Homo sapiens: one gene and its partners. The protein of the gene in region 4 purifies or fractionates together with the protein of the main gene of each other region. This does not show direct contact. Each region holds a gene or a part of one and is shown on either strand. Other genes may lie near its edges.

The links.
Region 1: the proteins of SLC38A8 (region 4) and OCIAD1 purify together in Homo sapiens (affinity purification with mass spectrometry; one large-scale study listed by BioGRID and IntAct). This does not show direct contact.
Region 2: the proteins of SLC38A8 (region 4) and GOLGA5 purify together in Homo sapiens (affinity purification with mass spectrometry; one large-scale study listed by BioGRID and IntAct). This does not show direct contact.
Region 3: the proteins of SLC38A8 (region 4) and GPR180 purify together in Homo sapiens (affinity purification with mass spectrometry; one large-scale study listed by BioGRID and IntAct). This does not show direct contact.
Region 5: the proteins of SLC38A8 (region 4) and IRGQ purify together in Homo sapiens (affinity purification with mass spectrometry; one large-scale study listed by BioGRID and IntAct). This does not show direct contact.
Region 6: the proteins of SLC38A8 (region 4) and VKORC1L1 purify together in Homo sapiens (affinity purification with mass spectrometry; one large-scale study listed by BioGRID and IntAct). This does not show direct contact.
Region 7: the proteins of SLC38A8 (region 4) and CMTM4 purify together in Homo sapiens (affinity purification with mass spectrometry; one large-scale study listed by BioGRID and IntAct). This does not show direct contact.

What each region holds. Positions count from the first base shown.
Region 1 is NC_000004.12:48,858,588-48,862,087, reverse strand, and holds the end of OCIAD1 (OCIA domain-containing protein 1), read right to left. Parts: intron 1,932-3,500; exon of another isoform or gene 1,885-1,931; intron 1,364-1,884; coding exon 1,326-1,363; 3' UTR 273-1,325; downstream 1-272. UniProt on the Homo sapiens protein: Maintains stem cell potency. Increases STAT3 phosphorylation and controls ERK phosphorylation. May act as a scaffold, increasing STAT3 recruitment onto endosomes. Involved in integrin-mediated cancer cell adhesion and colony formation in ovarian cancer.
Region 2 is NC_000014.9:92,807,805-92,811,304, forward strand, and holds part of GOLGA5 (golgin subfamily A member 5), read left to right. Parts: intron 1-1,495; coding exon 1,496-1,715; intron 1,716-2,449; coding exon 2,450-2,573; intron 2,574-3,500. UniProt on the Homo sapiens protein: Involved in maintaining Golgi structure. Stimulates the formation of Golgi stacks and ribbons. Involved in intra-Golgi retrograde transport.
Region 3 is NC_000013.11:94,600,444-94,604,656, reverse strand, and holds the start of GPR180 (integral membrane protein GPR180 precursor), read right to left. Parts: upstream 2,801-4,213; 5' UTR 2,730-2,800; coding exon 2,585-2,729; intron 1-2,584.
Region 4 is NC_000016.10:84,015,296-84,018,795, forward strand, and holds part of SLC38A8 (solute carrier family 38 member 8), read right to left. Parts: intron 1,993-3,500; coding exon 1,845-1,992; intron 1,433-1,844; coding exon 1,224-1,432; intron 1-1,223. UniProt on the Homo sapiens protein: Electrogenic sodium-dependent amino acid transporter with a preference for L-glutamine, L-alanine, L-histidine, L-aspartate and L-arginine. May facilitate glutamine uptake in both excitatory and inhibitory neurons.
Region 5 is NC_000019.10:43,586,135-43,589,634, forward strand, and holds part of IRGQ (immunity-related GTPase family Q protein), read right to left. Parts: 3' UTR 1-3,500. UniProt on the Homo sapiens protein: Autophagy receptor that specifically promotes clearance of misfolded MHC class I molecules by targeting them to the lysosome for degradation.
Region 6 is NC_000007.14:65,879,574-65,883,073, reverse strand, and holds part of VKORC1L1 (vitamin K epoxide reductase complex subunit 1-like protein 1), read right to left. Parts: intron 1-3,500. UniProt on the Homo sapiens protein: Involved in vitamin K metabolism. Can reduce inactive vitamin K 2,3-epoxide to active vitamin K, and may contribute to vitamin K-mediated protection against oxidative stress.
Region 7 is NC_000016.10:66,686,744-66,690,243, reverse strand, and holds part of CMTM4 (CKLF-like MARVEL transmembrane domain-containing protein 4), read left to right. Parts: intron 1-3,500. UniProt on the Homo sapiens protein: Acts as a backup for CMTM6 to regulate plasma membrane expression of PD-L1/CD274, an immune inhibitory ligand critical for immune tolerance to self and antitumor immunity. May protect PD-L1/CD274 from being polyubiquitinated and targeted for degradation.

The DNA of each region.
Region 1 (3,500 bases), on a different chromosome or scaffold from region 4:
AAAATGGTGTAGTATTTACATATAACCAATGCACATCCTCCTATATACTTTAAGTCATTTATAGATTACTTGTAATGCCTAATGTAAATGCTATGTAAATAGTTATTACAATGTATTGTTTGGGAATAACAAGAGTTCAGTACAGACAACCATCCATTTCTCTCCCTCAAATATTTTCAATCTGCAGTTGATTGAATCTGCAGATACGGAACCCACAGATACGAAGGGTCACTGTACACCAATTTTTCTTTTTAACATAATATCAGTCTCTGTGATGTATACCAAATTTTTATTGTTTTAGAATTTACAAATTCTTTAAAAATGCTTTTTAAGGCATTTACCTATTTACTATATTATCAATTTATCTACATAAATCACATTCATTATATTTTTATTTTTTTAGACACAGGGTCTCACTCAGTCGCACAGGCTGGAGTTCAGTGGTGTGACCACAGCTCACTGCAACCCAGAACCACTGGGTTCAACTGATCCTCCCAACTCAGCCTCTTAAGTAACTAGGACTACAGGCACACGACACCATCGCCAGCTAATTTTTATTTTTTTGTAAAGACAGGGTCTCGCTTTGTTGCCCAGGCTGGTCTCAAACTCCTGGACTCATGCAATCCTCCCACTTCGGCCTCCCAAAGTGCTGGGATTACAGGCATGAACCACTGCCCACTGCCTCCAGCCATATTATAGATTTATAGCCATATTATAGCCATATTATAGAAATATTATAGATGACTTTATTTCCTATACCTACATGATTATAACTAGCTTAAAAATAAATCAATAAATTACAAACAATAAAACCATAAAATCAAGGAAGATGAGGGCTGTTGCATGTTCCTTTACATTTTATTTGCCATAAACATTAAGATAATACAGAAAATACTGGAGAAAAAAAGCTTTTTAATAATTTCTTGATGCAAAGCTTCACACTTAAAAATTATGCTTGCTCCCCCCATCCACCCCAATTCAACATGCAGATATCATTTATTTTCTTATATGCTGATTCTAGAGCATTGTAATCTCGACGGTTTTTTAAGAGTTATCTTTGCCCTTGCAACAATTTCACAAACTGTATACAATCATGGTATAATACCATCATTCAAATGAATCCCTAAGGTGAGTACATTTACACAATATTAACACTAAAAATCTGTGTTTTTTTAAAACACCATAGAAGTCAAACCACAAAAACCCAGGATCTTGTTTTAAATGTGTTTATGAAGACTGCTGCTGAGCTCAAAGCATGCAGGTAATCATGACCACCTAGATGAAGCTGGATGTTGAAACTCCTTCATGTCCAATGATGTAATTTTTCACTCATCCCAAGTATCTCCATACTTGTTTACTTTGACTAGGAAAAAAGCATAAATAATTGATGATTCCAAGCAATAATAAGTAAAAGACATTATTTTAAGTTTGTTGCTATGATGAAAAGTTATGTTTCTCTCTCATTTGAATAAAAGCACATGAGAGTCAAATTATAATTACAAAAAGGGGATGACCAGACTTTTGTGAACTTGGGGTTGGACAAATGCATTGTATCTAGAATTTTACATAAATAGTTAGTCCTCATAACAAACTTCTAAACACAATTCTCATTTTAATGGTGAGAAAAAAGATTAGTAACTTGCCCAAGGTACAAGCCCTAACAAGAACTGAGATTTGAGTATAGGTCTGTTTAGATCCAAAGCCTAGGTACCTTTACATCTTTACCATACTACCTAAGTGTGGCACATATTAAGCCATATACAAAAAAAAAAAAAAATAGTGGGAAATAATAAAACAAACATTTGAATTTTCGTTTTTCACAAAAAATACAGCAGTAGAAATGGTCAAGTGTTCAAGTTGTAATTAATTCAATCTTCTCTCTCAGGGCTGTAAATACTACTATAAGAAGAAAATACTACTACATTTTACAGGTACTCTATATTTTACATTTTAAAACATGCTCCGCTGTCTATTCTACTCCTTTACTTTTTTGCTTCTCTTCCACATAGCTTCTGTCTGTGAGTAATCATAACAATATAAAGCAGCAGTTATCACAGTGTGGACTCTTCAGGGAATACATGAAGTCAAAATTATTTCATTATTATACTAAGACATTATATATCCTTATGTTTCACATTTTGCCTTTTCCCCTTGCTCTCATTCCCTCATGAGTATATGTTACATGGTTTTCTAGAAGCTACAGGATGTGTGGTGACATTGCTCTGGCAGCTAATGGAATATGTGCTTGAATTTTTTAAATTTCTGGGTCTTAATTTCTAATTAGATAAATATCAACCACATAAGCTAAAGGTGAAAACTTTAAGTGACACTTTCTGACCATGTGAATCTACCCTGTACTAATTTCAACAATAATTCAGAAAATGACTGAAACTATTTCATAACAAGTCTTTTCTTTAAATTATATAAAGCACACAAAAAACCAGCTTTTCCCAAAAAAAGAAAAAATCATTTCACATTCTTGTGTCATGTAACAGAACTTGAAGACTTCAGTCAAAAATCAAAAATGTCAAAATCCAGCAAATGTTAAAGGTCTACCAAATTTCCTTTCTTAACCTCTATTACCATAGAAGCCTAAACCAAAATACTCAATTTCTGATACAGTGTAAAGTACTATGCTATGCAGACAATAATAGAAAAGATTACAAAAATGAGAAAAATATTACTTTCTGCCCTCACAGAGCTTACAATCTAAATCCTCAAATTAATTAGCAGGACAAAGTACCGACAAGTCTTTACATATTACAGAGCAATGGCCACTAGATGCAGTTTATGCTAAATGTTGTTTGATGACAAACATTCAAAAGTATGGTACATCCCTAATTCATTTCAAAGGTAGATTTTTTTTACATCAATAATATGATGCAGATATTATCTATCATTGTTATAAAAACAGAACTCCAAACGAAGCAACCGCTAATGATTAAAAATAAAATTAGCTCTAAAAAATGACCATAACAACAAATACTAAGGACTTTCATGTATTTTTGCATTCTTTGTGGCATATGACCTTCAAGAAGGTACCAAAGACCTATTATTTCCATTTTTAAAGTAGTAAATAGAAAATCTTGAAACAATGACACATACTCTGAAATTCCTTAAGAGAAAATCATAAAACCCTATACTGAAATAGCTATAAAACCCTATTCGAATGTCCTCTTCCTTTAGAGGTAAACTTGTATCAAAAAATTTACTTTGGCTAATGTATAGCTATTCCAAAAAGACTTAAAAGAAACCAGGATTTAAAAATTCATCTTTAAGAAATGCCTTAGAAGCTGGCATATAACTCTTTCAAATTCACAAATGTACAAGAAAGGTCAGGCACAGTGGCTCCCACCTATAATCCCAGCATTCTGGGAGGCCAAGGTGAAAGGACTGGTTGAGCCCAGGAGTTTGAGACCAGCCTTGGCAACATAGGGAAAAACCCACTGCACCAAAAAAAATTTTTAACAGCCAGGGATGGTGGCATACAACTGTAGTCC
Region 2 (3,500 bases), on a different chromosome or scaffold from region 4:
GTGTGGCTGAGAAGAAAACGAGTGACAAAATTGCTGCCTTGGTTCCTGGGGCTAATTAGAAAGGAGTGAGGGGATGGTGGGAAAAGTTTTGCCAAGCCATGGATAGAGCCTAGAAGAGAGGAAAGGGAAGATAGTTGAAGACTCACTAAGCTAGGCGTGGTGGCTCACGCCTGTAATCCCAACACTTTGGGAGGCCGAGGCGGGCGGATCACAAGGTCAGGAGTTCAAGACCAGTCTGGCCAACATGGTGAAACCCGTCTCTACTAAAAATACAAAAAAATTAGCTGGGCATGGTGGCGCGTGCCTGTTATTCCAGCTACTCAGGAGGCTGAGGGAGGAGAATTGCCTGAACCCAGACCCAGGACCCAGGAGGTGGAGGTTGCAGTGAGCCGAGATCGTGCCACTGCATTCCAGCCTGAGCTACAGAGCGAGACTCGTCTCAACAACAACAACAACAACAACAAAAACAAAGTACTCACTAGTCAGGCTGACTTTAGAAAAAGCTTTACTTTACCCACACTAATTTAGACATAGAAATAGAGCTGTTTGGCCAGGCACAGTGAGTCACGCCTGTAATCCCAGCGCTTTGGAAGGCTGAGATGGGAAAATTGCTGAAGCCAGGAGTTCAATAACAGCATGGGCAACAGAGTGAGACCCCTGGGCTACAAAAATCAATTTTTTTTTGTTTTAAATTAGCTGAATATGGTGGTGTACACCTGTAGGCTGAGCTACTTTGGAGACTGAGGTGGGAGGATTGCTTGAGCCCAGGAGTTGGAGGTTGCAGTGAGTCATGGGCCATGATCATGCCACTGCACTCCAGCCGGGGCAACAGAGTGAGGCTCTGTCTCATGTTTTTGGGTTTTTTTTTTTTTCTTTAAGAAAGGTGTGTCTCACTGGAAAAAAAAAAAAAGCTTTGAGACCCTATAAAGTTTGATTCAGTATTTTTAAAATGTTGTGGTGGCTAACTGCAATTACATATGGTATGTGAGGGTATGGAAATGCCATTGTATTCTGAAATAGAGCACTACTTTGCTCTTTTTGCATTGATTTCCTAGGTCAAAAGAATAACATCTTTTTGCAACAGTAATTGAAAGCAATAGATTCTTTTCTGTGTTTAGGTTTTGTTTTGTTCTTACTAGGATGTACCTTTGATTTGGATTTGCATTCCTTTCCCTGTCACTAGCAGAACTTTACAAAATATACTCTGCTATCTATTAATACTAGTTTCGGCTCCCAGATGCTTTATCATATAGAAACAGCATTGTAGAAGAGCAGCTAGCTTCACGCCCCTTTCTAATCAATTAACTATAATCTAGCTGTGAATATTGCCCTTGAAAAGTGGATGACCCTTTGGGGCAAAGAAAATTGAAGACGTGTAAGTTCCCAATTTTGTCAATAAGGAAAGTACTAAAGGCACTCAAAGTAGAAACTGTACGTGCTCTGAGAAAAATGTGTTTGGTTTTGCTTGTATAGAGAAATTTAAATTTTTTAATAGAATTAAACAAAGCAAGAGCAAGAGTTGAAAAGTGGAATGCTGACCATTCAAAGAGTGATCGAATGACTCGAGGACTCCGAGCCCAAGTAGATGACCTGACTGAAGCTGTGGCTGCAAAGGATTCCCAGCTGGCTGTACTGAAAGTGAGACTCCAGGAAGCTGACCAGCTACTGAGTACTCGCACAGAAGCATTAGAAGCCTTACAGAGTGAAAAATCACGGTAGGTGATTCTATGAATAATGAAAAAAATGAGCAAGTAATGGTAAACATTGTAGTGTATCCACTTATGAAACTTAGCTTTCTTGGAAATTTACAAGAGGGAATATTTCTTTTGGTAGTGTTAGAAATGTGTATGATTAAAATGGATTCATTGGCTGGGCGTGGTGGCTCAAGCCTGTAATCCTAGCACTTTGGGAAGCCGAGGCAGGTGGATCACCTGAGGTTGGGAGTTCGAGACCAGCCTGACCAACATGGAGAAACCCCGTCTCTACTAAAAATACAGAAAAAAAATTAGCCGGGGGTGGTGGCACATGCCTGTAATCCCAGCTACTCAGGAGGCGAGGCAGCAGAATCACTTGAACCCAGGAGGTGGAGGTTGCAGTGAGCTGAGATTGTGCCATTGCACTCCAGCCTGGGCAAAAAGAGCGAAACTCCATCTCAACAACAACAACATAAAATGGATTCATTGTTTGAACCTTGAGATGCATTGTTAGCAAATTCTGAATTTAAAAGCATTTGTTGTGTCATTAATCTTTCATTATACGGTATGTACTTAATATTTGGATGCCTAAAAATGTAGATTATGTTCCATTAGAAAGGAAAGATTTATCTAAGAATATTTCAGTCAAATTATCTTTTTTGTGCTTGACTAAAGCTGACGCTCTAAAAATTATTCTGCCTTATCACTTGTACACTGTAGACATGAGTTATTTCACATGATGCATTTTCCTTTAGAATAATGCAGGATCAAAGTGAAGGTAACAGCCTGCAGAATCAAGCTCTGCAGACTTTTCAGGAGAGACTGCATGAAGCGGATGCCACTCTGAAGAGAGAGCAGGAGAGCTATAAACAGATGCAGGTTAGAATGAGAGACAGCAGATTCCTATTGTTACTTGGACACGGAAAAAATGACTTTATGCTGTTTCATAGCACATTAACTGTCTAATATAATTCTGCAATGCATTTCAGAAAATTCTGTTTCTGTGACAAAAATCAGATATTTGAAAATTTAGCTTGATCCTTGCTAAATGTATTTAATTTTATGTGTTGAGAGACAATTAAAATAGTTAATGTGCATTAGAGATATACATCTTTTACTTAATTTTTGCAACAATCATTGTCATTATTTGATTAAATGCTAATGGTTGGGGGATCGTATTTGTTTTTTATTAATTTAAGTTTTTCTGATTCCAGATTAATCTGGCTCATTTATTTCAGGAGAAAATTGTATGTAATATGTAAAGAGTTTTACTCTTAGATGAATATTTGCATTTAGTTCAGTCCCAGCCCTGTCTACACGTGGGAATCACTTGTGTGATACCTTGTGCTGTCTGAGCTCCATATGCAGTCACATTCCATTGTATGAGGTAGGGACTAGGTATTGACACTTTGGTTTTAGAAGGTTCACAGGTGTATCTAATGAGCAGTCAGGGTTGCAAACCACTGGTCTGGGCTAGCTTTTCAACAGGTGAAAGTAATTCAGTCCTGAAAGTAAATATCAGGTAGTGTGTGTCTCTTAATTTTAACACAATATATCCAAAGTATTAATTATTTCAATATGTAGTCAATATTAAAAGTTATTAATGAGATATTTTACATTATTTTTTGAATACTGGTTCTTTAAAATATGGTGTAATTTACACCTATTTATTTACTTATTAAATTGGAAACAGTTGATCAGCTAGTATCAGACCAGACCTAGTATCCAAGTGACCAGGTTCACCTGGGAAATTTCTTAAAAAACAGATTCCCAGACCCATCTTGAAAATTCCAGTTTAGTAAGCTT
Region 3 (4,213 bases), on a different chromosome or scaffold from region 4:
CTGCAGTCAGCTTTGATTACACCACTGCACTCCAGTCTGGGTGACAGAGCAAAACTCTTTTTTTTTTGAGACAGAGTGTTACTCTGTCACTCAGGCTGGAGTGCAGTGGCGCAATCTCGGCTCACTGCAACCTCCACCTCCCAGGTTCAAGCGATTCTCCTGATTCTCCTGCCTCAGCTTCCTGAGTAGGAGTAGCTGGGATTACAGGCATGCGCCTCCACACCCAGCATCACCACATCCAGCTAATTTTTGTATTTTTAGTAGAGACAGCGTTTCACCATGTTGGCCAGGTTGGTCTTTTTTTTTTTTTTTAATTTATTTTTGAGACATATTCTCGCCCTATTGCCCAGGCTGGAGTGCAATGGCACGATCTCAGCTAACTGCAACCTCCGCCTCCCCGGTTCAAGCGATTCTCCTGCCTCACCCTCCCAAAATAGCTGGGATTACAGGCACCTGCCATCATGCCTGGCTAATTTTTATATTTTTATAGAGACGGGGTTTCACCATGATGGCTAGGCTGGTCTTTAACTCCTGACCTCAGGTGATCCACCCACCTCAGCCTCCCAAAGTGCTGGGATTACAGGTGTGAGCCACCACGCCCAGCCACCAGGTTGGTATTGAACTCCTGACCTCAAGTGATCTGCCCACCTCTGCCTCCCAAAGTGGTGGGATTACAGGCAGGAGCCACCCAACGAGTCTGGCTTCCTTTTTAAAAAAAAAGAACTTTCAGAATAATATATGTTGTAAGATGAATACAGAATGAACCTGGTTGCACACACCAACTACATTTAAGGCCCAGAACAGAAATGGCAGTAAGTTATTGCCTCTAGGGAAAGGGATTCTGGGTGAAAGAGCTAAGACAGGAGACTGTTTTTCATTTTAAGATCTTCTATTCTCCTGGAAATTTTTTTTCTATGCTTTTATTACTATAATTACCACTTTGATTAAACATTTTAAATATATTTAAATATACAGTATATATATCAAAGAATGTGCAAGTCTCTTACATAAATTGATTACATATTTTGAAGTCTTACAAGTGACTCTGAGGCCCAATTGACACTGTAAATTGCATTCCGAGTTACAGTTCATTGTTTCAGTATAGTTTTTGTATTATTATTTTACTGAATTGGGATTCATGAAAATTGGTAATAACTATATGTGATTTTACACATATGAAACAGAATGAACGCACTTGAAACACCTTATCCCCAATCTGTCTTGAGAAATCTGAATTTAGTACATGTTTCTCCTCCACGTTTACCAGATGATCATCAGGAACTATGAGGTCGTCCAAGTCTCTCTGCTGGTCCTAAGTAATAACCCACGTCTTCTATACATCCCACATTTTCCAACACTGTCCACATTGTGCCATTTAAGACAGTGGCTGTCAATACTCAAAGTATGGTTACAGTCCGTTGAATGAGAAACTCAAAATGTTACAAAAAATAATAAAATTGTTTCTAGTGTTTCTTCTTCATTCACCCAAAATATATTCCACATTGGATTTTGAAAAACTGGGTTACTGAAACTCCTTTTCTTAGCTATCTTAAAAACTTCAAAAAAAAAAAAAATCAGGATCCCTTCCCTTTATTCTGTCAATTCTGTAATTTCCCAATACTTTAAATTCCTTTTCTCACCAAAGTAGTTCCGTTTCTATTATCTTCTCCTAACAATATTTTCTAGGCCAATATTCTGATGTTCATCGTTGCATCTTTTAATGCTAAAGACTGTACAAATCAAAGTTCCTAATGTCATCAAGGCAAATAATTATTTGAAATACAGCACTAGTCAAATTAAGAGTACCAAGAAAAACACTTAAATTGTGAGAGTGCAAATGAGACCAAAATTAGAATGAATTGCAAATGCATTTATTGAAGGAATAATTACTGATTTTTGAGGAAGACCAAAAGGTCTGAAATCAAACGCAACTCTGATTTCAGAAGAGCCACACAGAACACAAATTAGGGAGCTTCCAAGATGCTACTTAAATGCATTTTCATCAGCTTAATTCTAGGCCTTACTGCCCATAGTAAATCTACTGCCCTAGTAGCCAAGTAACCAAACTGCTCAATATAACAACTACATTATCAAGTGTTTTACTTGGTTTCCAAAACCACTCTGTTGCAAGTAGGTCTCAGGAAATTGGTCTTTAAAAAAAAAAAAAAAAAAAAGGAAATTTAAGTTTCTAGGGTTAAATTCTCCCGTCACAGTGTGGCCGAGACAGGAAGGAGCAAATATGCTTCTTTGCGGGAAGGATCTGGAAAGATGCGGCCGACCAGTCTTTTGCACATTGGCTTCCAAGGGGAGGGTTGGGGAAATGGAAACCAGCTTTCAGGTGCGGAACACGATCACTAGTGGCGAGAGGCCGCTGCCTGGGGCTGGAAAGCCGCACCAGCGGGGTTGGCAAGGAACGCATCCCACCATTCGCGGCAGCTGCTGCAACGCTGGAGGTCCAGGTGAGGCTGGGGAAGTCGCCGGCCTCGCCCAACGTGGCAGGGAGGGGCCGGGAGGAGCGGCCGGCGGACTCAGCCGGCGGGATGGGCCAGCGCGCCTTCATCCCCCTCCCCGCCCCCAGACCTACCATGGAACTCGAAGTGGCCGATGCGCTGGCCCTGGGCGTCCTGGGCCGCGGTGCTGCTGAAGCTGCCCCGCAGGGTCTTACCCTGGCTGCCCTGCGGCCACCAGCAGCACGTGAGGGCCACAGCCAGCAGCCGCAGCCCCCCCATGCCCGTCTCCAGGTCTGCACCGACGCCTCGGCTCCCAGCCGCCGGCGGCTGCCCGCCCCACGTCGGCAGCTGGGGGAGGCGGGGTGGGCGCCGGAGACCTGCTGCTCTGGAGCCTGAGAGCCAATGAGGCGGGCTCCTCTGCCATAAGCCGAAGACATTCACCAGTCAGAGGCCGAAATGGGCGGGACGCGCAGATCCTAGCGTCCCATCAGTCCCCGGCTTTTGACTAGTTCCCGCCTTTTTCTTTAATGAGGAATCAGGAGGATGTTGCTTCAGGTTACGGAAAACTCATCTCCCTCCTCATTGCCTAGCACGTCTTGCTACTGAGCATGCGCGGGCGCGCTGGCACGAGTCCGCGGGGCCTTCGAAGGGCTTGTGGGATTCGGAAAAAACTTAAGAAATGCAGGACAGGACTGTTTCTGGCCGAGAGAGTTAAACTCCCGCAAAGAAAAAACTGTGTTCTTATGCAGATTTTCTTCCTTGGCGCCTGTATAACCTACAGGACGTGTCCGATTTAATGTCTCAAAGACACTTAGCTCCGCATGACCACAATTTAACGCATGCCTTCTCTTGGCATCTCCAGCCGATTTTTCCCTCCTAGGTTCTCTGGCTTCTCGAATTACATTACCCCCACCCCCACCCCCGCCCGCAGACCAGACCGCTGGGAATTGTAGGCCCCCCCCCCCCCGCAATTCAATCAATTCAATAACAAGTGTGGATTAGCCCTTCTTCTGGTGAGGGTGGGAAGCAGCGGCCACAGTCCTACTCAGTTCATCACTTTGTTGGCCTATGGCAAAGACCGTCTCTACAGTCTTCATTCTAATTGGCTACAATCCATCTCTACCCTACAGCCACAGAAAGCTGTAGGAAACAATTTGCTGCACTTGCCTTGAAAGGTTCTCAATTGCCTTTAGCACACAACCCAAACTCTAGAATATGGCTCTTCAACTCTCAAATGTCTGTTTTTTCTCATCTCCATCCTTACCGCCGTTGGTTTCCTGAACACTCCCAAGTTCTCCCTTCTAGGCCTATATCACTCCCTGATCCCTCTGGCTAGAATACTTCTGCTTATTCCAACACTGGACCTCCTCACCTTCCTTTTCCTCCTTTACTCCTCCTTCCCAAGGCACTTTAAGAAGCCTTTCTCAAACCCCTAAGTCTGTAGTAGATGCCCCTGGAACCAGAATCCCTTACTTCCCTACCAGAGCACTCACGCACTGTACTGTAAGTATCCATTCATGTGTCTGAAATCTCCGCCTCTATTGTCAGCTCCAGCTGGTCAGTGACTACACTTTTTTTTTTTTTGAGACGGAGTTTCACTCTTGTTGCTCAGACTGGAGTGCAATGGCGCGATCTCGGCTCACCTCAACCTCTGCCTCCCGGATTCAAGCGATTATCCCACCTCAGCCTCCCGAGAAGCTGGGACTGCAGGCATGCGCCACCATGCCCGACTAATTTTTTATTTTTAGTAGAGATGGGATTTC
Region 4 (3,500 bases):
TCCAGCCCCCACCTTGCTGGCTTCCCCTTCTCAGATAATGCTTGGGCTGTTTGGGAAGGTTTCCTAAGAAACCATCCTTCGCAGAAACGGTGTTTGCCTCCAGGGCCTGGAGGCAGGAGGGAAGGGAGACATTTGCAGGGTGCCTTGAGCCACGTGACTTTCACATATACGATTTTCTTTTTTTAATAAAACAAAATCTTTTAGCAGGAGGCACCAGCGGTAGCATGGACAGAGCTGTATGATTGACCCTCAGCCCTGCTGCATACTAGCTGTGCCCCCGGCGGGGGTTCAGGGCCTCGGTCTTCGCATCTATGGAATGGGATCATAAACGTTCCTACGTCAAGAATGTCCATCAGGAGCTGTATTAGTCTGCTCTCATGCTGCTAATAAAGACCTACCAGGGACTAGGTAATGGTTTGTTTTGTTTGAGATGGAGTTTCACTCTTGTCGCCCAGGCTAGAGTGCAGTGGCGCAATCTTGGCTCCCTGCAACCTCCGCCTCCCGGGTTCAAGTGATTCTCCTGCCTAAGCCTCCTGAGTAGCTGTGATTACAGGCATACACCACCATGGATGGCTAATTTTGTATTTTTAGTAGGCTGGTCTCGACCTCCTGACCTCAGGTGATCCGCCTGCCTCGGCCTCCCAAAGTGCTGGGATTACAGGCGTGAGCCACTGTGCCCAGCCAGAGGCTAGGTAATTTATAAAGAAAAGAGGTTTAATGGACTCACAGTTCCACATGGCTGAGGAGGCCTCACAATCATGGCAAAAGGCAAATAAGGAGCAAAGTCACGTCTTACATGGTGGCAGGCAGGCAAGAGAGCTTGTGCTGGGGGGCGGGGGGGGACCCCCACTTATAAAACCATCAGATCTCATGAGACTTATTCACTACCACAAGAACAGAATGGGTGGAACCATCCCCATGATTCAACTATCTCCACCTTGCCCTGCCCTTCACAGATGGTAATTATTACAGTTCAAGGTGAGATTTGGGTGTGAACACAACCAAACCTCATCAGGAGCTAATGAGATGTTTAATGAGTGAGGGAAGGTATGTAAAGCCCAAGCCTGTGCCTGGCTCAATAAAAAGGGCACCTACATGGGGTCTTAATCCTACCCATATGTGGCTCCCACCTTCCAGAACCTTGACCTCCAACACTGGGAGTCCCCACAGAGATGAGCAGGGAAGAACAAGTGGGCAGAAAGCCTGGAAAGCAGGGGCCTCACCTGGGAAGATGAAGATGAAGAAGGAACTGATGCCTCCGATGATGCTGACGATCTCGCTGAGGTCAGGCATAAACAGCGCCATGGCGAGCGTCACGGTGACCCACAGGATGGTCAGCGGCATCCGGACCCACAGCCCTGAGGGGTCGGCCAGGGCGCTGGGCCCCCATCCCCCCAAGCAGCTCCTCCTCCAGAAGTCCTGCATCACTGACCTGGAGGCCACAGCCAACACAGACACATGGGCATCTCAGGGGCACCAGCCTCCACCCGACAGCTGCTCCCCAGTCCTCCAGGAGTCCCCTCACACCTGTCAGTGCTCCTGTTCCACACTCAGGTGTTTATTCCCCAGGAGACCTTGCCAACCCTCAGGGGTTCTGCCACCATCGGGCAGCCCATGGGGCAGGGGATGAAGCACGTGGTTCGCATTCCAGTCCTGGCTGTGGACACACACTCACGGAGTGACTTTGGGCAATCTACCTAAATCCTCTGTGCCTGTTTCCTCCTGTCTACAATTGGAGAGGATGGTAGTCCCACAGCCGCGTAGCCCACACCTGGTACATGCTCAATCACAGCACACATCAGCAGACCATGCTTCACGGTGCCCCCCACTGAGCCAGGCCTCACCTCCCCAGGAAGAGCACGATGGGGTAGACAGTTACGATGGAGACAGCAAAAAGGACCCGGGCCACAATGATGACCATATCATTGCCTGGGTAGGACATCAAGACGTCAGCAGAAACTTCTGTCCCAAAAGTCAGGAAGCCATAAACCCCTGAAGGTGGGAAAGGATGGAAGCCACAGAGTGGATTAGGAAAATGCTGCCCCCTCCCCCACCAACAGACAGACAGCGCCTGGCTTTACCACCTAAGATTTTCCTTAGGAGCTGAAAGAAGGTTCTGGAAGGGATAGCCCAAAGCTTTCCTGTCCTAAGCCTACACATGACTGTGCTCCAGGGATTCAAGACCCCTGCAGACAAATCCGCCACTTATCCTCCTTTCAAATCGCTCACAGAGCTGGTGCACGGAGCTCACCCACAGTGCGTGTGTTGACTAGAAGCACAGAGCACTTTGAAAAATACAAACACACCTCCCATGCCCTGTCCATCTCACTCCTACGACATCTAAAGAAAGCAGCTAGCTGTGCACACATTTCCAAATGGGGAAAACCAAGAGCCAGGGCATCAACCAATACCTAGAATCACACAGCTAGTTTTCGTGGACTGAGGACAAGAGCGCCATTCCCTTTGCGCCAACAGGGTGACACTGCTTCTGTCACCCCGGGTTGCCTGCCCTGTCCTGAGAGATAGGTCTCTAAGAGCCATGTTCCTTTCAGCTTCTCTGCAAGCCCTTTCTGAGAGGTCCCATGACCCTGGCAGTGGGAACATGTGGAGGTGATACTGAATCACTGAGTCACACCCTCTGACCCAGGGGCTACAGACTGATGGGACCTCCTCTGCTGGGGAAGGAGTCACCCAGCAAGTTTCCTGGATAACCACAGTATCTTAGTCCATTTTTTGTTGCTTACAACAGAATACCTGAAACTGGGCATCTCATAAAGAAAAGAAACTTACTTCCTACAGTTATGAAGGCTGAGAAGTCCAAGATTGAGTGCCCACACTGGTGAGGGCCTTCTTGCCAATGGGGACTGTCTTCAGAGGTGGCATAGGGCATTGTATAGCAAGGATGAGCTCTGACTCAGCCCTCATTCCTTTTTTTTTTTTTTTTTTTTTTTTTTTGAGACAGAGTCTCTCTCTGTCGCCCAGGCTGGAGTGCAGTGGCACGATCTCGGCTCACTGCAAGCTCCGCCTCCTGGGTTCACGCCATTCTCCTGCCCTAGCCTCCTGAGTAGCTGGGACTACAGACGCCCGCCACATTTTTGAATTTTTAGTAAAGACAGGGTTTCACCGTGTTAGCCAGGATGGTCTCGATCTCCTGACCTCGTGATCCACCCGCCCTGGCCTCCCAAAGTGCTGGGATTACAGGCATGAGCCACCGTGCCTGGCCTGGCCCATTCCCTCTTCTTATAAAGCCACTAGTGCCATGCCCATAACCCATCAGTCCATTAACCCATTAATCCATTAAGCCCCTGCCCCATGCCTGCCTCTTATGTGGGCTGTTCAGCTGGACCTAGAAACTAAAATCAACACCAGACAATCACATCAGCAGGAGAAAAGCCTACGGATCTTATTAATTTTCCTTGTCATTGGGATCTTAACACAGTGATGTCTGATGAAGCGGCCGAAATGAGATGCTTTTATACTTTTTAGACAAAGAATAAATC
Region 5 (3,500 bases), on a different chromosome or scaffold from region 4:
GCAATGCCAAAATTCATCATACATTTCCTTGAATTCCTGCCTTCAAGGGTCTTCCAGCCCTGTGGTGCCATGCAGACACACTTCAGTGGCGGCCAGTGATCTGTCTACAAGGGAGTCTTAGTCTTTTCTGCTTGGATGCTCCCAGGGACAGATGCCTGCCAACAACCTTATGTCTTCACAAAGACTAAAATGGAATCCCATTAAAAGTTATGATTTAAAAGGCGACCACCCCCAAAAGAAGTCATAACACTCAAGGGTGTCAATATATACAACTGTGTAAACACAACCAATCTACAACTATATCAACACAACCAGCACTCCTCTATGGGCACAGACACACACACAAAATTGTCTTGCTTTCTCAGATATGATCTCTGGCATGACTCCTGCTGGCATGAGGGCAGAGGAAATTGAGAGGAGCAAAGCATATAGCAGTGATGTCAGACAGGACCAAATCAGAGACAGGGTCAAAGTGGCAGAAAAATGAGGAGCACACTCCGAGCAAAGGCATGGGGGTGAGACAAAGGCACCCAGACTAGAGCCATCTTGGTGCTGCCCAGGGGTGGGTGGCACTCATGTTTGAGCTCCATGTGTCAGGCTTTTCAGGAAAGGGTGTACTATGTTATGTGTCTGTGTGCATATTGTGTGCCTGCATGTACATACATACGCTGAATTCTCACCATAACCATGTGAGGTAGATGCCATTTGTAGAGTGACTTGCCCAAGTCAGTGGAAGGACTATCTGCCCCTAGAGCTAGACTGATAGAATTTTCTATGTTGATGGAAGTATTCTGTACCTTCCCTGTCCAATACCATAGCCACTAATCACATGTGGCTACTCAGTATTAATGTTGCACTACTGCCAATGAAACATAGAATTTTAAGTTGTATTTACTTTTAATTGAACAGCTGAGGCCAGGTGTGGTGGCCCATGCCTGTAATACCAGCACTTTGGGAGGCCGAGGTGGGCGGATCACCTGAGGTCAGCAGTTCAAGACCAGCATGCCCAACATGGTGAAACCCCGTCTCTGAGAAAAATACCAAAATTAGCCAGGCATGGTGGCATACACCTGTAGTCCCAGCTACTCAGGAGGATGATGCAAGAGAATCAGTTGAACCTGGGAGGCAGAGGTTGCAGTGAGCTGAGGTCATGCCACTGCACTCCAGCCTGGGTGACAAAGTGAGACTCTGTCTCAAAACAAAACAAAACAACCCAGCAACTTGGTCAACATAACCAGACCTGCATCTTTACTTAAAAAAAAAATGGACACCCATCTCAGTTTTTGGAAAACTATTATATAATTGGAACAACTTGGATATGTGAATCTACTTCTCCAACTATGAATTTTATGAAATCAAAATAAAGGTCAAGCATTTCAGATAAAAATGTACCATGGTAATTGAGATTTGGTGTAAGTGTAAAATATATAACAGATTTTGAAGACAGCACAAAAGAACGTAACATAATTCATTTAAATAATACCGATGACGCCAGGCACGGTGCCTCACGCCTGTAATCCTAGCACTTTGGGAGGCCGAGGTGGGTGGATCACCTGAGGTCAGGAGTTTGAGACTAGCCTGGCCAACATGGCGAAACCCCATCTCTAACCAAAAATACAAAAATTAGTGGGCATGGTGGCGGGTGCCTGTAATCCCAGCTACTCGGGAGGCTGAGGCAGGAGAATCACTTGAACCTGGAAGGTGGAGGTTGCAGTGAGCCGAGATTGTGCCACTGCACTCCAGCCTGGGCAACAAAGCGAAGCACTATCTCAAAAAAAAAAAAAACTAAAAAACCGATGACATGTTGAAATGCTATTTTGGATACATTGGGTTAAGTAAAACATGTTAAAATGAATTTAACCTGTTTCCTTTTACTTGTCTAATGTGGCTATTAGAAAACTTGGCTTACTCAGCACTTTGGGAGGCTGAGGTGGGCAGATAACTTGAGGCCATGAGTTCCAGACCAGCTTAGCCAACATGGTGAAACCCCATCTCTACTAAAAATACAAAAATTAGGACGGGTGCAGTGGCTCACGCCTATAATCCCAGCACTTTGGGAGGCTGAGGCCGGTGGATCACCTGAGGTCAGGAGTTCAAGACCAGCCTGGCCAACACAGTGAAACCCCATCTCTACTAAAAATACAAAAATTAGCTGGGCATGATGGTGCATGCCTGTAATCCCAGCTACTTGGGAGGCTGAGGTTGCAGTGAGCCAAGATCGCACAACTGCACTCCAGCCTGGGTGACAGAGCAAGACTCCGTCTCCCAAAAAATAAATAAATAAATAAAATAAAAATACAAAAATTAGCTGGGCGCGGTGGCTCATGCCTGTAATCCCAGCACTTTGGGAGGCCAAGGCGGGTGGCCTGAGGTCAGTAGTTCCAGACCAGCCTGATCAACATGGTGAAACCCCATCTCTACTAAAAATACAAAAATTAGCCAGGCATGGTGGCATATGCCTGTAATCCCAGCTACTCAGGAGGCTGAGGCAGGAGAATCACATGAACCTGGGAGGCGGAGGTTGCAGTGAGGCGAGATCGTGCCACTGCACTCCAGCCTGGGTGATGGAGTGAAACTCCATCTCAAAAAAAGAAAACTTAAAATGACATATGTGGCTTGCATTTCGTTTCTACTGGACAGTGCTGCCCTGCAGCCCTCCCATTCCATCACGTGGCTGACATGCCTGATTGCAGGGCTTAGACACTAATATGATGGGGTAAAGATATGGATGAATATTCTTCCCCAAAGCTGAAAGAGCTTTCATGAAAATGCCTGGAGCCATTCAGTATAGAACTAAGTGCTCTTCCCCATGGTAGCTATCTCAACTTTGAAGGGACAAATTTTGTCAGCAGTGGGAGTCCAAGCTGGAGATGATGGTACCATCCCTTGTCTGCCCTTGGATCAGTTACCTTTGTCTTCAGCTTTTAAGGGAGACAGGATCTCAAAACTAAGGTTCTTATCCAGCTCTTTTATTTCACAGATGGGAAAATAAGGCACTGTCCAAGTAACACACAGTGACAGTGGCAAAGTCGTGCTTGCTTCCCAGGTCCCTGACCTCAGACAAGGGTGTTCTCTCCCATTAAATGCTTTTTTCTCCTCATCTTGCTCCATTTTCCTATCTTGTGGCAAGAGATTAACAATCTAAATTCCAATCCTAGTTCTGACACTGACCAATGAAATAAACATTTAGGCTGGGTGTGGTGGCTCACACCTGTAATCCCATCAAGGCAGGAGGATCACTTGAGGCCAGGAGTTCAACACTAGTGTGGGCTACAAAGCAAGACCCCCGTCTCTACAGAAAATTTGGTGCTGTGTACCTATAGTCCCAGCTACTCTGTAGGCGGAGGTGGGAGGATCGTTTGAGCCCAGGAGTTGGAGATGGCAGTGAGCCATGATCATCCCACTGTATTCCAGCCGGGGCAACAGAGCAAGACCCTGTCTCTAAAATAATAATAATAATAATAAATATTTACGAAGCACCTATTGTGTCAGGCACCTAT
Region 6 (3,500 bases), on a different chromosome or scaffold from region 4:
TTATGGATGATTGGGCAGTCTTATGTCAAATTTGTTTTGTTTTGATGGCATGGTATCAAGAAAAACCGGATTCACAAAGATGAATAGATGATAAAGCATGTTTTGCCAATGATAATGTTTTGTGTGTGTTTTTTAAATAGTACATTAACGCTATCTAAGGATTTAATTACACCTGTCCAGAAGTTTTAAAAGTAAAACATTTCTAAATTAATTATGTAATAGTGTTAAGGAATGAATACTTGGTAGTCGTAAACATTTTGGTAAAAAATAAAAACTTTACAATATGTACTAATCCTGATATATGCATTAGGCAGTCATGTTATTGCATAATGCAACAGTTCTAATAGTACTGAATGTGCTTATATGTTACATGAACAAACAAGCACTAGCCTAAAATTTCAAAATATCAACATAAAGCTACAGTCTTACTAATCAATAACATTTTTATCCTTTCTAACTCTGAGGAGGAAAAAAAAGGAAAGAAAAAATTTTAATTAAAAAATAAAATGGCATTTTAAAAGTTTCATTTCTATACACAAAGTGAGACACTCTATTCCAAGGATTATTGTCCTGGGTGTAAGCATTATAGATAATTTACATTTTCTTCCTTTTGCTTATTTTCTCTCAAATATTCTAAATGCACTTTTTTTTTTTTTTTGCTTTTTTACTTTTTATTTTATTTTATTTTATTTTTCAGACGGAGTTTCACTCTTGTTGCCCAGGCTGGAGTGCAATGGCGTGATCTTGGCTCACTGCAACCTCTGCCTCCTGGGTTCAAGCAACTCTCCTGTCTCAGCCTCCCGAGTAGCTGAGATTACAGGCATGCACCACCATGCCCGACTAATTTTGTATTTTTAGTAGAGATGGGGTTTCACCATGTTGGTCAGGCTGGTCTCCAACTCCCGACCTCAGGTGATCCACCCGCCTCAGTCTCCCAAAGTGCTGGGGTTACAGGCGTGAGCCACTACACCCAGTCTATTTTATTTTATTTTCTTGAGACAGAGTTTGCTCTGTCGCTCAGGCTGGAGTGCAGTGGCATGATCTCAGCTCACTGCAACCTCTGCCTCCCAGGTTCAAGTGATTCTCCTGCCTCAGCCTCCCAGGTAGCTCAGACTACAGGCACCCACTACCATGCCCGGCTAATTTTTGTATTTTTAGTAGAGATGGGGTTTCACCATGTTGGCCAAGCTGGTCTTGAACTCCTGACCTCACGTGATACATCCGCCTCAGCCTCCCAAAGTGCTGGGATTACAGGCATGAGCCACTGTGCCTGGCCAACTTTTTATTTTAAAATTACTATAATTATAAATCACAGGAATTTACAAAAAAGTACACAGGGAGGTCCCAAGTACCCTCGCCCAAATTCCTCCAATCCTGAGTTTATTCAGGTTTCACCAGTTTTGTATGCAAAATGGGACTTGAGTACGCTAGGATTTATATGCAGTATGTGTGTGTGTGGTTGTATGAAGTTTTTATCACATTTGCAGCTTTGTATAATCACACCTGAGACATTGAACTGTTCCATCCCTACACAGCTCCCTCATGCTACCACTTTATAACCACACCACCCCTCACCTCCCATTCCTAACTCCTAGCAACCACTAAATCTGTTCTCCATCTCTGCAGGTTTGTTATTTCAATAATGTTACATAAATGCAATCATACAGTATGTAATCTTTTAGGGTTCTCACTTGTTTTCACTCAGTATTAACTCTCTTGAGATAACCTGGCAGACAAATCAGTTGTCTCTAATATATTAAAATTTAGCATGAGATTCATTTGACTGTGTATAAACATTTATAATATTTTAAACTTAAAACATTAAAATGTGAATCAAAGGTGTATGAAATCCCTGTTTCATTGACAGAGAACAGGGATTCTGAGATACAAATTTTGAAAACTGGGAATCTAATACAAGCCTAGTACAATGTAGTACAGGTTGAATATTCCTTATCTGAAACACTTTGGAGCTGAAATGCTTTGGATTTGGGATTTTTTCAGATTTGGGAATATGTGCATTATATACCGGTTGAGCATCCCAAATCTGAAAGTTCAAAATCTGAAATGGTCCAAAATCCAAAACTTTGAGTGCCAATGACACTCAACGGAAATGCTCACAGGGGCATTTCAGATTTTGGATTTTCGGATTAGGGATCCTCAACCTGTACAATAACTTTATAGAAGAAAAGCTCAGGACTCAGTGCTATGTCTTATCAGTGTTTACAAGAGTACATGGTTTATAAGAACGCCTGGTTTTGCACTTGCTATGGGCAAGATCTAGATTCTGGTTCTTTCCCAACCCAGTTGAATATGTTACATTCAAATATGACCACTTGCTGTTCTTCTCAAATGACCACAGTTTGCTACCCTTTCAAGTTCTTCCTAATGATTGAGGAAATGAACTCCTCTTAAATTCCCAGATCTGTGTGGCGCTTTAGCTAGCACCACACCTCAGGTCCAATTCTCCTGTCTTTATATGCAGCAGGTCCACACGACAAGGCCTCCCTCCGAAAAAGCTACCCCAATCTAGGACAGATTCAAACAAACTCTTTTCCCTCCCCCTCCCTCCATGTGCCCAGAACCCCTTTCTCCTTCCTCCCTAGGCTAACCTGCTAAGTCTTCCGGACAGCTCACTACACCGTCTATCTGTTAGTTAACTGGGTGTGACAAACCACGTCCTCACACCTTAGAAGGCAAACACTCCAGGAACTTACTTCTGGAATACCAATACCTTCACAGTAATTTCCCTGCCTTTCCAAAGAGTGCTCTAAACAGGTAAAAGTGATACCACAAACTCTATATATTTTTGTCACATAGATACAGAAACTGGCACCATTGTTTGCATATTTAAAAAATCTGGTTGATATGGTTATCACTCTATCAATATTAGATCTAAATGGAATTTAAAGTAGTGGTAAAAGGCTGGGCGTGGTGGCTCACACCTGTAATCTCAGCACTTTGGGAGGCCAAGTGGGAAGACTGCTTGAGGCCAGGAGTTTGAGACCAACTCAGGCAACAAAGTGAGACCTCGTCACTATGAAAAATAGAAAAAATTAGCTAGGCATGGTGGGGTGTGCAACTGTAGACCCAGCTACTCAGGAAGCTGAGGTTGGAGGATCACTTGACCCAGGGAGGTTGAGGCTGCAGTGAGCCATGACTGCACCACTGCACTCAGCCTGGGGAGACAGAGTGAGACAATGTCTCAAAAAGTTAAAGAAGAAAGAAAAGAAAGGAAAGAAAAAAAAAGGAAAGGAAAGAAAAAGAAAAGGAAAGAAGGAAGCAAGGAACGAAGGAGGAAGGAAGAAGGAAAAATAAAGAAAAGGAAGGAAGGAAGGAAAAAGAAAGAAAAGAAGGAAGGAAAAGAAAGAGAGAAAAGAAAGGAAAGGAAGAAGGAGGGTGGGAGGGAAAGGAAGAAAGGAAGACGAAAGAGTAGTGGTAAAGAGCTTGGACTCTTGAGCCAGACTGCCTGGGTTAGAATCAGGCCTCTGCCACTGTACTAC
Region 7 (3,500 bases), about 17 Mb from region 4:
CTGGCTCCCATTTATCCCTGAAGTCATGCATATACAAGCGCATAATGGTAGATGAAGCAGTGGGTTTCTCTATGTTGGATTCTCAGATCCACCATTCTGTGGCTCCTTGTAAAACAGTCCCATTTTCCTTTAGGAAGATTGTTATCTTTAGGAGTTGTCTTCCTGATCAAGGACTTGGAGTCAAATAAATTCTGGCAGAAAAGCAAAGTTATAATTACTCTTAAGTTTTTTTGATGATTAAAAATAGTGAAATTATAATCCACGATCTCAAAAGAAGTTGTTAAATGTAGAGCGTACATGTGTTTTACAAAACCACACAAAGACAGTTCAAGAAAATGATACTACAGACCAATATTCCTTATATGAACACAGACACAGAAATCCTCAACAAAATACCATATAGAAAATAAAACCCAGCATAATGGAGAAAGAATAATACACCAAACCAATTTGATTTATCCCAGGAACAAAAAGGTTGGTGCAGTTTTTGAAAGTAAATGTTATAGGTGTACACCATATTAATAACTTAAAATAACAGGCCAGGCACAGTGGCTTATGTCTGTAGTCCCAGCACTTTGGGAGGCCGAGGCAGGTGGATTGCTTGAGCCCAGGAGTTCAAGACCAGCCTGGGCAACATGGTGAATCCCCTTCTCTACAAAAAATACAAAAATTAGCATGACATGGTTGTGCATGCCTGTAGTCCCAGCTGTAGGCTAAGGTGGGAGAATTGCTTGAGCCCAGGAGGTCAAGGCTGCGGTGAGCCGCGATCGTGCCACTACACTCCAGCCTGGGCAACAGAGTGAGACCGTTTCTCAAAAACAAAACAAAACCCAAAGCCACATGATTCTATCATTTGATGCAGAAAAAAAAAACTTTTGACAAAATTCAGTACTTTTCCATAATAAATGCTGTCAGCAAACTTGGAAGAGAAAGGAACTTCTTCAACCTGAAAAAGGGCATCTACAAAAAATCTACAGCTAACATTATACTGTAATATATAATGTTACAGTGGGGAAAGAATGAATGCTTTCCCCCATGATGGGAAACAGGCAATGATGTTTACTGTTACCACTCATATTCAAGATCATACTGGAAGTCCTAGCCGTTGCAAAAAAATTAATAGGAGACGTACAGATCAGAAATAAATAAAACTGTCCCTATTCGCATATGGCATGATTAGGTAGATAATCACATGGGAATCTATAAAAAACCTCCTAGAACTAATAAGTGAGTTAGCAAGGTTACAGGATATAAGGTCAACACACGATAACCAATAGTATTTTTATATCCTAGCAATAAATCATTGGAAATTAAAACAAAAAAACCAATATCAGTTATAACAGCACTCAAAAGAATGAAATTCTTAGATATAAATCTCACAAAACATGTATAGAATCTGCTCACTGAAAACTACAAAACACTGAAGTAAGAAATCAAAGATGACCAAAATAAGTAGACAGGCATTCTGTGTTCATTAGGATTGGAAAACTCAATATAGTTAAAATATTAGTTCTCCACAAATGATCTATAGGTTTAATACGATCCCAAAATCCTAGCAAGGTTTTTTTGTAGATAGAAGAATGCTGATTCTAAACTTTATATTAGCCAGGCAAAGGGCTAGTGATGGTTTATGGAGGTATGTTCCAGGGAGAGAGAACAATGACATGAAGTCACCCTTGTTTAGGGTAGAATGTGTGTGTGTGTGTGTGTGTGTGTTGAGGGGAGTGTTTCTGAGAGTATGATGGACTTCGTATCTCTTATCGGCCATGAGACTTTTGGCAAGCTACTTGTTCACTCAGGCCACAAGCAGATCTCCTGCAGGTCTCTCACTTGGGGATTGTAAGTTGGGGATAATGGTAGTATTACAGTGCTGGTGAGCCCACCATGCTCCCTAGCTCAGCGTCTCAAGACACCACGTCATCAAAGCCTGTTGGAGGTTGCTATGGTCTGAATGTTGGCATTCCCCCAAAATTCAGATGTTGGAACCTAACACCCAGTGTGATAGTATTAAGAGGTGGAGCCTTTTGGGAAGTAATTAAGTCATGAGGGCTCAGCCCTCATGAATGGGATTAGTGCCCTTTTAAAAGAGTTTGAAGGGAGTGTCCTTGCTCATTCTGCCATGTGAGGACACATAGAAAGTGCCGTCTGTGAAGAATGGGCCCTCACTCAGATACTGAATCTGCTGGCACCTGGATCTTGGAGTTTCCAGCCTCCAGAACTATGAGCAATAAATTTCTATTTATAAATTACCCATTTTGGCCAGGCGCGGTGGCTTACACCTGTAATCCCAGCACTCTGGGAGGCCGAGGCGGGCAGATCACAAGGTCAGGAGATCAAGACCATCCTGGCTAACACGGTGAAACCCGGTCTCAATGAAAAATATAAAAAATTAGCCGGGTGTGGTGGCAGGCGCCTGTAGTCCCAGCTACTCAGGAGGCTGAGGCAGGAGAATAGCGTGAACCCAGGAGGCGGAGCTTGCAGTGAGCCAAGATTGCGCCACTGCACTCCAGCCTGGGCGACAGAGCGAGACTCCGTCTCAAAAAAAAAAAAAAAAAAAAAAATTACCCTTTTTACGGTATTTGGTTATAGCAACCAGAACAGACAACAGACTGATAGTGATACAGAATATCTCTGGAATGATACAAGTTGGGGAGCTGGGTGGCCGAGGGCCAGGGTGTCAGGGAGACATTTTCTGCTGTATAACTGTTTGTACCTTTTGTATTTTATTTTATTTTATTTTATTTTTGAGACGGTCTCGCTATGTTGCCTAGGCTGGCCACAAACTCCTGGGCTCAAGCGATCCTCTTGCCTTCAGCTCCCAAAGTCCAAGGTTTACAGGCATGAGCCACTGCTCCCAGCCCTTGAATTTTGTACCACATGCAAGTACCTTCTATTCAAAAATTACTAAAATAGTAGATGTTACTAGCTTTACCTTAGTATAGCCTTAAAGCTCATATACTGACTGTAATCTTTAACTTTTCATGACTTTCTTTGTAATTTGGAGGCCCTTGGGAAGAATGATTTAGATAATACAGACCACTTGGACAAACTTGAAGCTTAAATTGTTTTAAAATGCACTTTTCTGTAAAAAAAAAAAAAAAAAAAGCATTCTGCACAATAGTGGGTGCTTAATAAATTTGTTGATGCTAATGGAAAACTTCTTCCATTTGAAAGGAATTTACCCTCATTTGTTAGTGAAAATGTTGTAACATTAAAGAAAATTAGAAATTAGAAAAATAATCATCGTATTATGACAGACTCAAATGAAAAGGACTTGGAAATTTTTTCCTTTCCAAAGGCTACATATGATCCCCTGTGGCAAAGTCTGGTGATTATGTTTTCTAGTTTTTTTGCTATTAGGAAGATGCGTCAATAAATGTCCTCATGAGTGTAGCCTGGATTCTTCTTTTGAATTATTATTTTTGGTTAAATTTCAAGGAGTGCTTTTACTACATCAAAGGACAAGACCACCACATTTCTGAACATTTAAAAAAAAAATA